Linked DNA regions of Homo sapiens: region 1 is linked to region 2. A link means that fine-mapping ties the variant in region 2 to the expression of a gene that starts in the linked region. Tissue or cell type: whole blood. Region 2 holds a variant in brackets; the other region holds the start of a gene. All regions are shown on one strand. Distances are from middle to middle.

Region 1 (7,761 bases), 53 kb before region 2:
TGAAGGGGCTCAATCACAGTGGGGACAGAGAGGCAAGAGATCAGCCTGTGAATGGCAGGAGCAGCAAGACCATGCAGGGCTAGACATCCATGAAAACAAGTTTGGCTTTTATTCAGAGAGCAATGCGGGGGGCACTGAAGAGTTCTAAGTAGAGGAGCAACAGAACAGATATGCAAGATTAGGGGCAGGGAGACCAGCGAGGAAGTGAGAGGTGGCAGTGGTCTGGACTGGGGTTGGCCTGCAGATGGAGAAGGTGGTCTCACTGGTGAGACTAGTGACAAGACTTGTTTGAGGGGAGGTTGGTAGAAGAAGGGAGGAGAGGATGACTCCGAGGGGGTGCATGGTAATGCCTTCCATCAAGACAGGGACAGAAAACAATCTGGTGCAAGGAGTGGGCGTACGAGATGGTGAGTTCAGTTTTGGACCTGTAGAGTTTAAGGTGTCTGTCTGTGAGCCAGTGAAATGAAACTGTCTCATAGGTGGCTGGATACATAGATCTTGAACTAGAGAAGAGTCCAGGCTGGAAATACAGCCTTGGAAGATGTGATTGGCTCAGTAATGGCTCCCAAAGATATCCAGGTCCTAATCCATGGAACCTGTAAATGGCACTTATATAGCAAAAGAGATTTTGCAGGTGTGATTAAATTAAGGATTTTGAGATGGGGAGATTATCCTGGATTATCTGGATAGGCCCTAAATGTAATCACAAATGTCCTTATAAGAGGGAGGCTGAGCACTTTGAGAGGTCCAGGTGGGTGGACCACTTGAGGTCAGGAGTTGGAGACCAGTCTGGCCAACATGATGAAACCCTGTCTGTACTAAAAATACAAAAAATAAAAATATAAGTAAATAAAAAATAAAAATAAAAAATTAGCTGGGTGTGGTGGCATGGGCCTGTAATTCTAGCTACTCAGGAGGCTGAGGCACAAAAATCCCTTGAACCTGTGAAGCAGAGGTTGCAGTGAGCTGAGATCACACCACTGCACTCCAGCCTGGGCGACAGAGAGGCATCACGTCTCAAAAAAAAAAAAAAAAAAAAGAGAGAGGTTGAACTAGCTGGGCGTGGTGTCATGCACCTGCAGTCCCAGCTACTTGGGAGGCTGAGGTGGGAGGATCGCAAAAGCCCAGGAGGTTGAGACTTCAGGGAGCTGTGATCACTCCACTGCTTGGAGTGACAGAATGAGACCCTGCCTCAAAAAAAAAAAAAAAAAAAAAAAAAAAGAGGGGGCCGGGCGCCGTGGCTCATGCCTGTAATCCCAGAACTTTCGGAGGCCGACGCGGGTGGATCTCCTAAGGTCAGGAGTTCGAGGACCAACATTGAGAAACCCCATCTCTACTAAACATACAAAATTAGCCGGGCATAGTGGCGCATGCCTGTAATCCCAGCTACTCTGGAGGCTGAGGCAGGAGAATCGCTGGAACCCGGGAGGCGGAGGTTGTGGTGAGCTGAGATCGCACCATTGCACTTCAGCCTGGGCAACAAGAGTGAAACTCCGTCTCAAAAAAAACAAAAAAAAAACAAAAAGAAGAGGGGTGGGGAGGCTGGGAGAAATTTGATCACAGGGAAGAAGGCAAGTAAGATGCTTGAAGATGCTGCTGCCCTTGAAGGTGGAAGGTGCCATAAGCCAAAGAATGCAAAAACTACAGCTCTCGAAGCTGCAAAAGCAAGAAAACAGATGCTCCCTTATAGCATCCAGAGGAAGTACAGCCCCACTGATACCTTGATTTTAGCCCAGTGAAAGTTATTGCAGACTTGTGACCTCCAGACATGTAAAAGAATAAATGTGGCCAGGCGCAGTGGCTCATGCCTGTAATCCCAGCACTCTGGGAGGCCGAGGTGGGCGGATCACCTGAGGTCAGAAGTTCAAGACCAGCCTGGCCAACACGGCGAAACCCCGTCTCTACTAAAAAATACAAAAATTAGCTGGGTGTGGTGGCACGTGCCTGTAATCCCAGCTACTCGGGAGGCTGAGGGAAGTTATTGGTGATTTGTTATAGTAGCAACAGGAAACTAGTACAGAAGACATCAACATTACCGTTGGGATTGGATGAAGAAATCCAGGAAGGCTGATAGAGTGAGACATGCAGAGGATTTAGCAGAGAGCTCCCAACAACTCCAGCATTTAAGATCCCTGCGGAGGAAGTGCATCTCAGAAAGGGCTCTTGGAACAGCCAGAGGGAGAGGGCCACCAAAGAAAATAGTTCTCCTAGGATTCAGGGGCAAGGGTGTTTCAAGGAGAAGGGAGTGGTTAACATTGTCAGATGCTCCTAAAAGTCAAGCAAGAAAAGTGCCTAAGCTCAGGAGTTTGAGGCTGCCTTGAGCTATGATCATTGCACTGCACTTCAGCCTGGGCGACAGAGTGAGACCTTGTCTCTAAAAATAAATAACAAGAAAAGTGCCTATTTGGTTTCAACAGGAGAAGTTGACCTTGAAAGAACTCTTGGAATAGTTGTCGTCTCTATCAGATGGTACACATTTTTTTCAACTTTTAATTCTTTTTTCTTTCTTTTCTTTTTCTTTTTCTTTTTTTTTTTTTTTGAGACAGGGTCTCACTTTGTCACCCAGGCTGGAGTGCAATGGCAGGATCTCAGCTCACTGCAAACTTGACCTCCCAGGTTTAAGCCATTTTCCTGCCTCAGCCCACCAAGTAGCTGGGACTACAGGCAAGAGCCACCACGCCGGGCTAATTTTTGTATATTTTGTAGAGACAAGGTTTCGCCATGTTGCTCAGGTTGGCCTTGAACTCCTGAACAATCCGCTCACCTCGGCTTCCCAAAGTGCTAAGATTACAGGCATGAGCCATCGCTCCCGTCAACTTTTAATTCTATTACACAGTAGTATATGGTCATTGTATAAAAGTTAGGATATACAGATTCACCAAAAGAAAAGAAAGTTACTCATAATGTCTTCAGCTAGTGCATATCTGTCTTCAGCTAGTGCATAAAATGTTGCTGGTGCAACATTTTAGTGCATATCTTTCCGGATTTTTTCTTTTCTTTTCTTTTCTGTGCGAGAAAAGAAAAGATTCTCTCAATCGCCGCCCTGTGGGGTAAAATACCATGAGGCCATTTTAAGAGGGGGAAATGCAGGCTTAGAGAAGCAAGCAATTTATCCAAAGTAACCAAGATTGGAATCTAGGTTCCTCTGACTCCAAAACCAATGTTCCTTGCTGCGGTGCTTTCCTAGCTTTTTACTTGGAGAACTTTTCCCCAGAGGACCTCAGGCTTCAGAACTAAACCTAAGTGGATTTCTATCCTGAACCCCATCCCTCATCCGCCCCAAAGGATGGTGAGCCAGATTAAGGGGTGAAAGGCAGGAGCAGGAAGAGTAAAGGCGTGGGTGCGATCTATGGTCGGGTAAGAGGGAACTAGTACACGCACGTGTTCGGTTCTTCGCAACATCACAATCAAGCGGGCATCAGGCTTCCCATTGTACAGATAAGGAAACTGAGGTTCCAGAAGAGAAGTAATTTTCCCCAAGTCACACAGCTAGCCAGGGGCCCCGATCCACACATCCCCGGGGCGGCGGGGGTTATCAGGAGGGAGTCTCCGGATGCCTGCAAAGCTGAGGCTGAGAGCTGGGCGTACGCAGCAAAGGAGGGGTGGGGCGATTCGGGGCGGAGCGAGGCAAGGAGATTGGGCGGGACTGGGGAGAGAGGAGGGAAGGGTGGCGGGGGGGTGGTAGGGCAGAAGGGGCGAGGTCATGGGGAACTCGGAACGAATCAGCAGAGGAGGGAGGAAGAGGGAGGGGGCTCTAAGACTCGACGCGGAGATGGAACAGCCTGGGCCGTGCAAGGGAGGAGGATTTGGAAGACCCAGAGCGGGATGAAACGGGACAGAGCCCTGAAGGGGCAGGGATGGGGGAAGGCGGAGGAGTTTCTACTGAGGCCAGGGGTGGGGCATCGCGCCAGGGGGCGGGGTCTGAGGCGGTGAGGGGCTGGGGGCGTGGCCTAGGGGGCCGGCGAGGGGCCGGGGAAGCGGCCTGACGCGGTGCGGGGCCGGGACCGGGGCCGGAGCCTGGACCTTGGCGGTGGAGGAAGGCGAGGAGCCGGGGGCGGGGCCGTCCCAGCTGAGGAGCGGAGAGCGGCTGGAGGGTCGGGGGCGGGGCGTGCGGAGGGGCGGGGCGTGTGGAGGCCGGGACGGCGCCCCCGGCCGGCGGTGAGGCCGGCTCAGCGCGGAGCAGCTCAGTGCCCCCCGCGCCCCGCTCCGGCAGCTCCACGCTCGCGCCCGCCATGCCGGAGCAGTTCAGCGTCGCCGAGTTCCTGGCCGTCACCGCGGAGGACCTCAGCTCCCCGGCTGGGGCCGCCGCCTTCGCCGCCAAGATGCCCCGGTACCGAGGGGCGGCGCTGGCGCGGGAGGAGGTGAGGGGGCCGAGGCGGGAGGGGTCGGGGGTCGGCGCCGGGCCTGGCCTTGACCTCCACAGGCGTGTCGCACCCGAGCTGCGATGGCCCTTCACCGCGCCCCGAAACCTGCCCCCTCCCTAGGTCTGGGAGGACCGAGCGCATCTCCAACAGCTGCGTCCTCACCGTCGAGGCGGGGGAAGGCCCGAGGGACCGTTTTGGGGGGCCTCGAGGTCTCTTCGATGACAAACTCCACAGGTCGGGGGACGTACCCCAAGTGCCCCGCGTGACCGCCTCATCACATATGTGTTTGCCTAGCGCCTTCCAGCCTCAGTTTGCGTTTTCATCTTCGGAGCCCCACAAGTGTGCCCCCCGAGTCACTCCCCTTCTGAGAGGCAGGCTTCCCGCCTCAGTCCTGAACTTTCTTCCCCCCGGCTGCAGAGAGGCCCCCTCCCGCTTGCGGCTGGTTCGGAGATTTGGCCCGCGTTTGTGGAATGAATGCGGATGGGAAGGCGCCAGGAGCCGGGGTTCACCTTGGCCGGGCTGTTGGCAAGTTTATCGTCTCCTCTCCCCTCCCCTCTCCTCTTTGTCTTTCCCAGCAAAGCGTCCCAGGCCTTTTCTTTCGGTCTTGCAGGCTGCCCCACCCCATTCCCATGCTCTTCGGAGTTCCTTCCATTCCTCTTCTCTGAACCTGCTGCAGCTTTCCGCAGCTCCTCTGCAAAGAATATTCTAGGACAGACACCCCGTGGCCTTGGTCCAACGGAGAATAATGTGTTTTTGCAGCTCCCCATCCAAAGGATGCCCTCAATTTGGGTGGCATTTTGGACCTCAGCAACGGCTCTAGCCTTCCACCCTTCACCTTAAGTGTACTAGGCACCCACTGCGTGGCAGATACAAAGCTCAGTAGTTCATAACACCCTGCGCCAGTGTCAGGAAATCTGTCCTCTTCTCTCTTGTCAGGGTGACCCTCCATCTCGGAGTCTGTTTGTATCACTTTGTAAGGGTGATAGAGGATTGTGGAAGGAGCATCGACTTTGGGGAAGGCAGACCTTTTTTCTTTCCTTTTTTTTTTTTGAGACGGAGTCTCGCTGTGTCGCCCAGGCTGGAGTGCAGTGACGCGATCTTGGCTCAATGCAAACTCCGCCTCCCAGGTTCACACCATTCTCCTGCCTCAGCCTCCCGAGTAGCTGGGACTACAGGCTCCCGCCACTACGCCTGGCTAATTTTTTTTTTGTATTTTTAGTAGAGACGGGGTTTCACCGTGTTAGCCAGGATGGTCTCGATCTCCTGACCTCATGATCCGCCCGTCTCGGCCTCCCAAAGTGCTGGGATTACAGGCGTGAGCCACCGCGCCGGCCAAGGCAGACCTTTTTTCAAACGCTGGCTCTGCAGTTTGCCATTTGGGTGAACGTGGGCATGTGACCTGTCCTGTCATCTGTGGAATGGGGGTAATAATGTGTACCTCACATGAGACAATGCATATAAAGCATGCATCTTTTTTTTGGAGACAGAGTCTTGCTCTGTCTCCCAGGCTGGAGTACAGTGGTGCGATCTCAGCTGACTGCAATCTCTGCCTCCCGGGTTCAAGCAATTCTCATTCCTCAGCCTCCCAAGCAGCTGGAATTACAGGCATGCTCCACCACACCCGGCTAATATTTGTATTTTTAGTAGAGACAGGGTTTCACCATGTTGGTCAGGCTGTTCTTGAACTCCTGAGCTCAGGCAGTCTATCCGCCTTGGCCTCTCAAAGTACTAGGATTATAGGTGTGAGCCGCTGCACTGGCCCATGCCTCTTGATAAATGGAATGATTATCGTCAGATTAATCGGCAGATCTCTTTAGACAGTGATTGGGTCTCTTTTGTCTTCATTTGTCTCACAGAGCCTCACCTTGTCTCATTTGTCTCACGGAGCCTAGCCTACTACTTTGCACATAGTAGGGGTACATGTTTTATTAAAATAAGAAGCAGCCGGTCAGATTTGGCTTCCTTCCTTGGGCAGAGTCCACTGCCTGTGGATGTGGGTTATATTTTACTGTGGGGCTCACAGGGAAACACTGCTGTCCAGCCCATCCTTTGGAGAGCTTCCTGAGATTTGTCTTCATAGCCTCACATTTCATGACCCAGAATAGCTCAGTGCCATCCACATTCTTAGGGATTTCATGGTTCATCCTCCTCCCCAGGTTGTTCATTAGAATCTTAGAGCAGGAGAAGGGGCTCCAATATGAACCTTATCCATGGACAGAAATGCCCATTTATGCCCATACATCTGGCCTTGCCTGGCTGTGTAAGTGTAAGCACTGTGTGTTGGGGGAGGGACCCTTAGAATGGGTCTGGAGGCCACAGCAGGCTCTGTTCAGGGCTCAGCTTTGCCCCAGTTCAGGCAAGACAAAACCCATCCTCCTTTGCCTTCAGATTTTTGGTTTGGTGCACGTAGAGGTTCATTGTTACAACAGAAAGGCTTGCGGCACCCAAACACAGCTTTTCTCTTCAGCATCTCAGGGCCCAAAAAGTTAGAGTCTGAACTTTGGATTAGACTTCCCTGAGGTTTCCTGTTTGGTTTTGCATTTGCATTTATATTTTGCGATTATATTGTGTTTACATATAGTTTGATGCTGCAATTTTTTCCCCCAGTTCTGGGCTTGACTAACCCACCCCCAGGCTTGTAGCTCTATTTGACTGAATCAAAATGCAACTGATTCTTAAGTCAAGTCTTCCAGTTCTGACTGGTTTCCTGGGAGTAACTAGGGACCCTGTCCTGGGACTCGCAGCCCTTTTGTACAGTCCTGCTGGGAAGGACCCTGGGCAGATCACAGGAAACTAGAATGTCAGGGCTGAGGGACCCTTTTAAGATAGAGACCAGCTAGAAACTCTCTCAGATAAGATGGAGTAACTGATGTCCAGAGAGGCCAAGAGACTTGGCCAAGCTCCTGCGGCTGGATAGTGGGAAAGTTAGCATTTCTACCCACGTGTTCTACCCCCGGTCCTGTTCTCTTTCCTTTTAAAGTCCATCTGTCTGTCCTCCCTACGTAACTTCTCTGAACCTTGTTATTTTATCCTTAAAATGGATCTCTTAATCACTCCCTGCTTACCTTACTGGGTTGTTAAAGTTTTTTGTGTTCAATTATGAAGCACCATGCAAATGTGAGGGAGTATATTAAGATAGTCATTACGTCAACCAGCCTCTTCCTGTCTTGGGCCCCTTTATGCCCATCATCTCATTGATATTCACAACAACAGGTGAAACCGGGCCTAGGGCAGTGGAGGCAGCTGCCCTGTGTCACACAGTGGGTCTCTCTGACTCTGCTGTGCTCTGCCTGGGCTCTGTCCAGCTCTCTGTGCCATCTCTATGGACATAAAGGACACTAAGGACATAAAGATGCTACTTTGATTTGCTGACTGACTAGGGAGAAGTAGCCTGTTA
Region 2 (7,761 bases):
AAGGAAACCCCCATCTCTACAACAACAACTAAAATTAGCTGGGTATGGTGGCACACACCTGTGGTCCCAGCTACTCAGAAGGCTGAGGTGGGAGGGTGGCTTGAGCCCAGGAGGTTGAGGCTACAGAGAGCTGTGATTGCGCCACTGCTCTCCAGCTTGGGTGACAAAGCGAGACCCTGTCTCAGAAAAACTAAAAACGGGTATCTTTGAACTGTCTGTCTGATATCTTGGTGGGCTATCCAATGGGCAGTGCAGCACTTAGGTGAGGTAAGAATTTGGAACAGCCTGCACATGTGTGATAGTTGAAAATGTGAGGTTGCTGAGGTCTTGGTGGGGAAGTGCGATCAGGGAGAGGAGCCGAGAGCTGAGAAAGAAGTTTGGGAAACACTTGTTGGGGGCAGAGGAGGAAGAGCCGTGAATGGGAACAATGGGAGAATGGCCCTTCACCTTCCTCCCAGACATGAGGCTCTGCCCTTGCAGTCTCATCTCTCCAGGGTTCTGGCAGCTTCCTATGGGGGGATAAGGGGTTAGCAAGAGTTCAAGAGGGAAATACTGGGTTGGAGGCAGGTGCACTGGGGGGGGAATCTCAGAGGTGTGGATGTGTTTTCAGGCACCTGAAGAACTCGTCTTGCATTTGGCTGTCAAAGTCGCCAACCAGGCTTCCCTGCCTCTGGTGGATTTCATCATCCAGAACGGGTGAGAGCCTCCCTGCCTGTCTGTCTGGCTCCTCACACTCCCTCTCCTTTCCTTCCTCTTCTCCCATTCTCTTCCCTCCTTTCCCCTCCCACTTTTTCCCCTGACTTTGATCCCCTCATTGATCTGTTCCCCTTCCTTTCTCCCTGAACCCTCCTCTCCCCAGTGGTCACCTGGATGCCAAGGCTGCTGACGGGAACACGGCTCTGCACTACGCAGCACTCTACAACCAGCCCGACTGCCTCAAGCTGCTGCTGAAGGGGAGAGCTTTGGTTGGCACAGGTGGGGCTTGAATACCTCCTCCGTCAGACTCCTATTCCTGACTACCCCTTATGTGGACTTCCGATGGTCTCGGGCTCTAATCCTGGCTTGCTTCTGACCACCTCTGTGATCTTAGGGGTTTGTCATTCAGCTCTTGAATTTCAGCTTCCTCATCTGTAAAATGGGAATAATACCACTGACCTAGCAGGACTGCTAAAGAAAAAAGAAAATAATATTTCTGGGAGTACTTAGGCAAATAAATATTAGCTAGATCTGAATGATAATGATTGTAATAGCTAATATGTATTGTTTAACATATGCCTGGCAATGGGACAAGTGCTTTTTGTATGTTAATTAATTGAATCCTCACAACCACTTCATCAGGTAGTTCCAAGTATTATACTCATTTCATAAACAATTTTGTCCCAAAAGGTTATATAACTTGCCTATGGTCACATAGCCAGAAAATGGCAGAGCCAGGATTCAAACCCATACATTCTGATTCCAGAGGCCCGTCTTAATCTCTAAGCTGTAATGTTTCTTTGACTATGACCATGAACCCTGACTTTCCCCGCTCACAGTAAATGAAGCAGGCGAGACAGCTCTGGACATAGCCAGGAAGAAGCACCACAAGGAGTGTGAGGAGCTGGTGAGGACTCGGGGAGGCAAGGGGCCCCTGACTCTTTCTCTCTCCCTGCTGAGCCCCCAACCCTCTGAACCACCAAGCCTTTGTTTTTGGCAGCTGGAGCAGGCCCAGGCGGGGACCTTTGCCTTCCCTCTACATGTGGACTACTCCTGGGTAATTTCCACAGAGCCTGGCTCTGACAGTGAGGAGGATGAGGAAGAGAAGGTGGGTCCCAGCCCTGTCCCTCAGGCCTCTGGATGGCAGAAGGAAAGAGCCAGATTGGGCCTGGTGTGTGTTGGCGGGGGCGGTGAGGCGGGGGGACAGGGCTACACCGGAGGAACCAGGCTGTCCTCATCCTCAATCTTTTGCTCTGGCAGCGCTGCTTGCTGAAGCTCCCGGCCCAGGCTCACTGGGCCAGTGGGAGGCTGGACATCAGCAACAAGACCTATGAGACTGTCGCCAGCCTGGGAGCAGCCACCCCTCAGGGCGAGAGTGAGGACTGTCCCCCGCCCTTGCCAGTCAAAAACTCTTCTCGGACTTTGGTCCAAGGGTGTGCAAGACATGCCAGTGGAGGTACAGTTGGATGCCCAGATAAATGCTCACCATGCCATTCACAGAGGACCTGTATATGCTGGGGCACTGAGCTGAGTGCATATGTTAGTCCGTACTATCCTTATGATGACCTCCCAGGAAGGGGTTCTCATCTTCCCCTTACAGATAAAAGAACAGAGGTGTTAAGTCACATGTTTAAGATCCCACAGCTAATAAGTCTCTGATGTAGGATTCAAATCTCAGCCCATCTTATTCCAAATTCCTCAATGCTCCACTTAACAAGAGAGAAACGAGTTTATTGAGCATCCCCTTCATCCTGAGTCCTTTGAGGGCTACCAAGACACAGTCTAGTAGGGGAGATAAAAACTGGAATGCAATTCATTATAATACAAGGCACAATGTGATATAGAATGTAAATCCCAAAAGGACAAGGACTTTGAGTGTTTCATTGAATACTATTTGTCCAGTGCCTAGCGCAGAGCCTGGCTGTTCTCAAGAACTATTTGTCGAATGAAGGAACAGACTTGTTGTGGGAGGTTGGGGCAGTTGGAGAGGGAGCATGTCCTGCTGGGATTGGGGGTTGGTTTAAGAAGGCTTCCTGGTGAGGATAGCATATGAGTGAACCTGAGGGATGAGCAGGAGAATCCAAACTGGGACAGGGTATGAGCACAAGCAAAAAAGTGAGTCAGCATGGCCCTGGCCACCGCGAACAAAGGCTTCATCAGTTGAAGGAGAATACTGGACAGGTAGATGGGGAATGGACTATTGGCAGAGAACCAGAAGAGATCCTAGGCCAGATGTGGTGGCTCGTGCCTGTAATCTCTGCACTTTGGGAGGCCGAAGCAGGCGGATCACCCCAGGTAAGGATTTTGAGACCAGCCCAGCCAACATGGTGAAACCCCATCTCTACTAAAAATGCAAAAATTAGCCAGGTGTGGTGGCATGCACCTGTAATCCCAGCTACTCTGGAGGCTGAGGCAGGAGAATCTCTTGAACCTGGGAGGCGGAGGTTGCAATGAGCCGAGATTGCACCACTGCACTCCAGCCTGGGTGACAGAGTGAGACTCTGTCTCAAAAAAAAAAAAAAAAAAA[A/TA]TCCTAGAGGCCAGAGACTGCTTTGAGGTTGGGCACAGAGCAAGTGATAAAGAAAAGCTTTATCATTTCTGATGTTTCTGATTCCAGATCGTTCTGAAGTCTCCAGCCTGAGTTCAGAGGCCCCTGAGACCCCTGAGAGCCTGGGCAGTCCAGCCTCCTCCTCCAGTCTGATGAGCCCCTTGGAACCTGGGGATCCCAGCCAAGCCCCACCCAACTCTGAAGAGGGCCTCCGAGAGCCCCCAGGCACCTCCAGACCCAGCCTGACATCCGGGACCACCCCTTCGGAGATGTACCTCCCCGTCAGATTCAGGTTGGTGAGGGCCCAGCTGTGCAACCAGGGCAAATCCCCTGACTTCTCTGAGCATCCATTGATTTCCACACCTCTAAATAGTACCTGCCTAAAGACTGGGTCACACGCCATCTCTGGGCCCATCACTTATGCAGAAATGCTGAACCCTGGGACCCCTTCCCCCTTCACACACTTGCTCCCAAATCCTGCATGGAGAGCTGAGGAGGAGCCAGGGATCCTCCCTGCTGATGTTGGAGTAAAGTAGGCTTAGCCCCCTGTGTGGCTTATTCTAGAGGCTCTCAGTGGGGTCTTCACTCTGTCCCCACCTCCAACCCAGGATCCAGTCTTCTCCCTTCCATACAAACCCATTCAGTCTGGAGTTTGGGGAGAAGTAGACCTGCAGATATCCACAGAGTCTTCTGGAGGTCAGTTCCAGCCTTCTTGGGCCTGTGATGGACCTGGCCTGGGGGCCTTGTGGACTCTACCCACCCATCCTAAGCCCCCAGACTGGCTCTGTTCCTGAGCCCTTTCTCCCCACTCTGAGGGGCTCTCTGGACATGAGGGTCATGTTGGCCTTTCCCTGCCTTCCAGCTCCGAGAGCACTCGCTCCTATCGGCGGGGGGCGCGGAGCCCTGAAGATGGTCCCTCAGCCAGGCAGCCTCTGCCCAGAAGGAACGTGCCGGTAGGAACTCTGGGACCATGGTTTGAGGGGCGGTGGCAGGGTGCCTGGGAGGCAGAGTTAGTCAAGAGTAGGCGTATTGGGGTGGGAGACCTCCCCATGGTTGGGGTACAGATGGGCCCAGGCAGCCACAGTTTGGACAGTCCCTGTCCTGGTGCCCAGGTGGGCACGGTTTGGCCAGTCCCTGTCCTGGTGCCCAGGTGGCCACGGTTTGGCCAGTCCCTGTCCTGGTGCCCAGGTGGCTGCAGTTTGGCCAGTCCCTGTCCTGGTGCTCCTCTTTCCATGCTCCAGCCCAGGGCTGGGTGAAGCTGAGGAGAGCCCAGGCCTTGAGGGATGGCAGTGATCATGAGGCCCAAGCTCTGGCTTCTCCCCAGGGGAGGATGAGGAAAGTTGTGTTAGCCAGGCCAGTCGCTCAGAGAAGGCATCACTTCCCTGCAGAAGAGGCAGGATTAGGTGGCCGTGTACCAGCCCTTGTTTGCCTAACTCTCCCCTTGTTCATGAGTCTCCTGGAATCCACAGGGACTTTCAGATCCCAGGCATAGAGGGATGTGACAGGGACAGGGCAAGAGCTGTCATCCTTAATCCAGCTTCTCCCTGCTGAATCACCAAGTCTCCAACAATGGCATATATTAGTTGAACCTAGGAGTGGGCACAGATCAGAGCCAGTTGTGTTGGGAAAGAAGCCTCTTCTGTCCCTTGTTCCTCTGGGAATTCCTCAGAATGGCATTGGTTGTGTTGGGAGTCAGGATGGCAGGGGCAAAAGCTGGTTCTGTCTGGGGAATCGTCATCTTTAGTCCACCAGAGTTAGTCAGCAGACACAAATCTATGTCCATATTCTGGTTCCACTATTGCCCTGAAAACCAAGTATCCATCAGATGGCATTTAATTGATGCCTGTGATTGTGGTGTGTATGATAGCAAGAGCTTGGGCTTTAGAGTAAGGAGACTTTGGATAAGTGGCTTCACTTCCTCAAGCCTCAGTTTCTTTGTCTGTAAAATGAGAATAATTTAATTTATCTACAATAGGACAGATGTGAAACTGAGTGAGATGAACACCTGGTATGTTACAGGTGCTTTGAAAATGTCAGTTTCATCCTTCTTTCTGCAGGTTGGCATCACTGAAGGAGATGGCTCAAGGACTGGGAGTCTCCCAGCAAGTTCTGTGCAACTTTTGCAAGACTAGCTCCTTGCTGGCCCCCACATGCCCCATGCTAGGCCCCAATGTTCAGAGCTGGGACTTGAGCTCACAAAACTGGGGAGCTGAGACATTTGTTCTCTTGGATCTCACTCTCTCTGTCCCTTGTGCCTCTGTAGCTGGCCTTCTTCCTGCCACAGGCCATGCCTCTACCAAGGACACATGGCCTTTCCCTGTTAGGACTGATGGCGGTTCTTTCCTATCTCATTACCCGCTAGGGGCCTGGGAGCCCTGTGGCTGGATCTGAGTGCTCCTGAGCTGGCTTCAGCTGCAGAACTCTCAGTCCCTCATCAGATCGAGACTCTATTTCCCCCGTCAGTCTGGGGGCTTCACAAGGGCAGGAGAGCCCTCCATCACTGACTTCCAGATCAGGGACCCTGCCAAGTAGGGACTGTCTTCTCAGCCAGCCATTTATTAGTCTAATATTCCTTCACTAAATTCCAACTCTATGTCTGGACCTGTGTTAGGCACTTCAGATACCACACGAGTAAGACAAGGGCCCTGCAGGGGTGGTCCTTTGGTGGAAAGCTGGTCTTAAGGGTTGGGCTTGGGAATAGGCAGGGTCAGATTCCAGGGCATGGCTCTGGACTCAGCTGGTTTATACCTATATGACCATTACAATTGTCTACAGATCACATCCATTCTGGCTGGTCAACATGCATGCTGTACTGGCTGTTAAATAAAAATATTCTGAATGTCACTCCTTTTGAGGGACAGCACAGCCTTCCCTAGGCATTCTCCTATATTCCCCAGCCAAATTGTAGAGTCAGATGCACCCACATTTGCCTGTGTCCTTGATTTAGCAGGAAGGAAAGGAATAGTCAGGGTTGATGGATGCCCACTTCTCTTCTCTTTCTCTTGGTCAACTCAGGAGCCTTTTAGTCTGAGGGAATGGAGAGGCAAAGAAAGAAGGGAGAGTAATAGAATTGGGAGGGCAGAGACTTAAGGGTTCTGCTTCCCAGCCCTAGAAATTCTATCATTGCTCAGCCCCAATGAGAAAGCAGATACACCTAAGCCATCATCAACCACTAACATCTCAACTTGCCAGTTGCTGGGTGCTGGGCCCTGGCAGGAATGGGCCAAGCCAAGCAGGGGAGACTAGAGAGCACCAATGGCCAACACAGCTGCCTGGCTGGGGAGGCTGTGCTGTTTCCCCTGGAGACCTGACTGGTCTGTGGTTCCCACAGGAACAGGGTTGTCTTTTGAGCCCCCAGTGTCTGGTTTCATTCATCTCAGACTTGTTATTTCACTCATCTCTAATAAAGGATTGGGGGGTCAGTTTCCAGTGGTTTCATTTATGTGATCTAAAGAGCAACAGGGAGGGGAAAGGAATCTTGGGGCTTGAAATTCTTTCTCTGGACCTGGCAAGGGAGATGGCCTGATGTGGAATAGTGGTTTGCAACCACAGTGTTTTGCCCCGGGGAACTTCTGATAAAGCAGAAAACAGTTTTGACTGTTCCCAACTGGAGGATGCTAGTGGCATTTAGTGGACAAAGGTCAGGGATGCTACTAAACATCCTACGGTGCATAGGTCAACCCTCCCTAGCAATGCATTATCCAGTCCAAAATGTTAATAGTGCCAAGGTTGAGAAACCCTGGAAAGAGCACTGGACTAGGAGTCTGGAGACCTGAAATTCTAGCTCTCCCATGGTCCTCTGCCACTGTCTCTGTTGACTGCCCCTGAGACAAGGATTTGGGAGCAAGTAGCTTATCTGTGAAATGATCCCAGGAAGCATAATGAGGGAATAGAGAAATGAAACAGAAAGTCAAAGATAAAGAGCTGTGCGTGTTGGTGAGAACCTATACTCCAGCTACTCGGGTGGGAGAATTGCTTGAGCCCAGGAGTTCAAGGCTGCAGTGAGCCATGATGGCGCCACTGCACTCCAGCCTGAACAACAGAGCGAGACTCTGTCTCTAACTCTTGTTGGGGACCTGTGAGAAGGAGTATTGACTAGAACATGCCTTCAGGTTGTCCCATCGAGAGTGAAGAAATGATGTTTTCCACCAACTCTGGTTTCTTGCTGGTTGGGGGTGTCCTTTCTGAGGGCATCAATTTCCTACCACCCCAAAGCTCCAAATAGAGAAATGTGGGGAGCTGTCCAAGGTGTGTCCAGGAATTATCTTCCAGTGACCTGTAGGGTGGACAGGTAGGCAGAGGGGATATGATGGTATCAACAGGGTCCAACCCTGAGAGAATCATCACCCTCTTTAGGCCTCGGTCTTCCCATCTATACAATAAAGAGGTTGGACTCCATGTTTTCTTAGGGGCCTTCATACCCTGACATTCTAGGAGTCTTAACTTTTTTTTGATGTCGCGCATCTCAGGGTGGTGACTGGGTGGAAGTTTGAGAAAAATCTCTCTCTCTCTCTTTTTTT

The links. PIP is the estimated chance that this variant, and not a neighbour inherited with it, causes the effect.
Region 1: it holds the start of ASAP3, and the variant in region 2 is fine-mapped to the expression of ASAP3 in whole blood (INTERVAL, PIP above 0.99).

The regions. Positions count from the first base shown.
Region 1 is chr1:23,480,605-23,488,365 of GRCh38, reverse strand. It overlaps ASAP3 (ArfGAP with SH3 domain, ankyrin repeat and PH domain 3), which reads left to right and starts at 4,187. Exons shown (of 25, transcript NM_017707.4): 1 at 4,187-4,361. The coding sequence starts at 4,233. RefSeq lists an enhancer at 3,323-3,422 and silencers at 3,613-3,662, 3,673-3,782, 3,903-4,352.
Region 2 is chr1:23,427,468-23,435,228 of GRCh38, reverse strand. ASAP3 (ArfGAP with SH3 domain, ankyrin repeat and PH domain 3) reads left to right here. Exons shown (of 25, transcript NM_017707.4): 18 at 611-696; 19 at 860-975; 20 at 1,536-1,603; 21 at 1,697-1,804; 22 at 1,957-2,152; 23 at 3,311-3,533; 24 at 4,104-4,194; 25 at 5,299-6,666. The coding sequence ends at 5,373. LOC124903875 (a long non-coding RNA gene) reads right to left here. Exons shown (of 3, transcript XR_007065535.1): 3 at 6,246-7,517. Among named protein-coding and RNA genes, the nearest start is that of TCEA3, 6.6 kb to the right of the region's middle. The variant A/TA (reference allele first, on the strand shown) is at 3,224.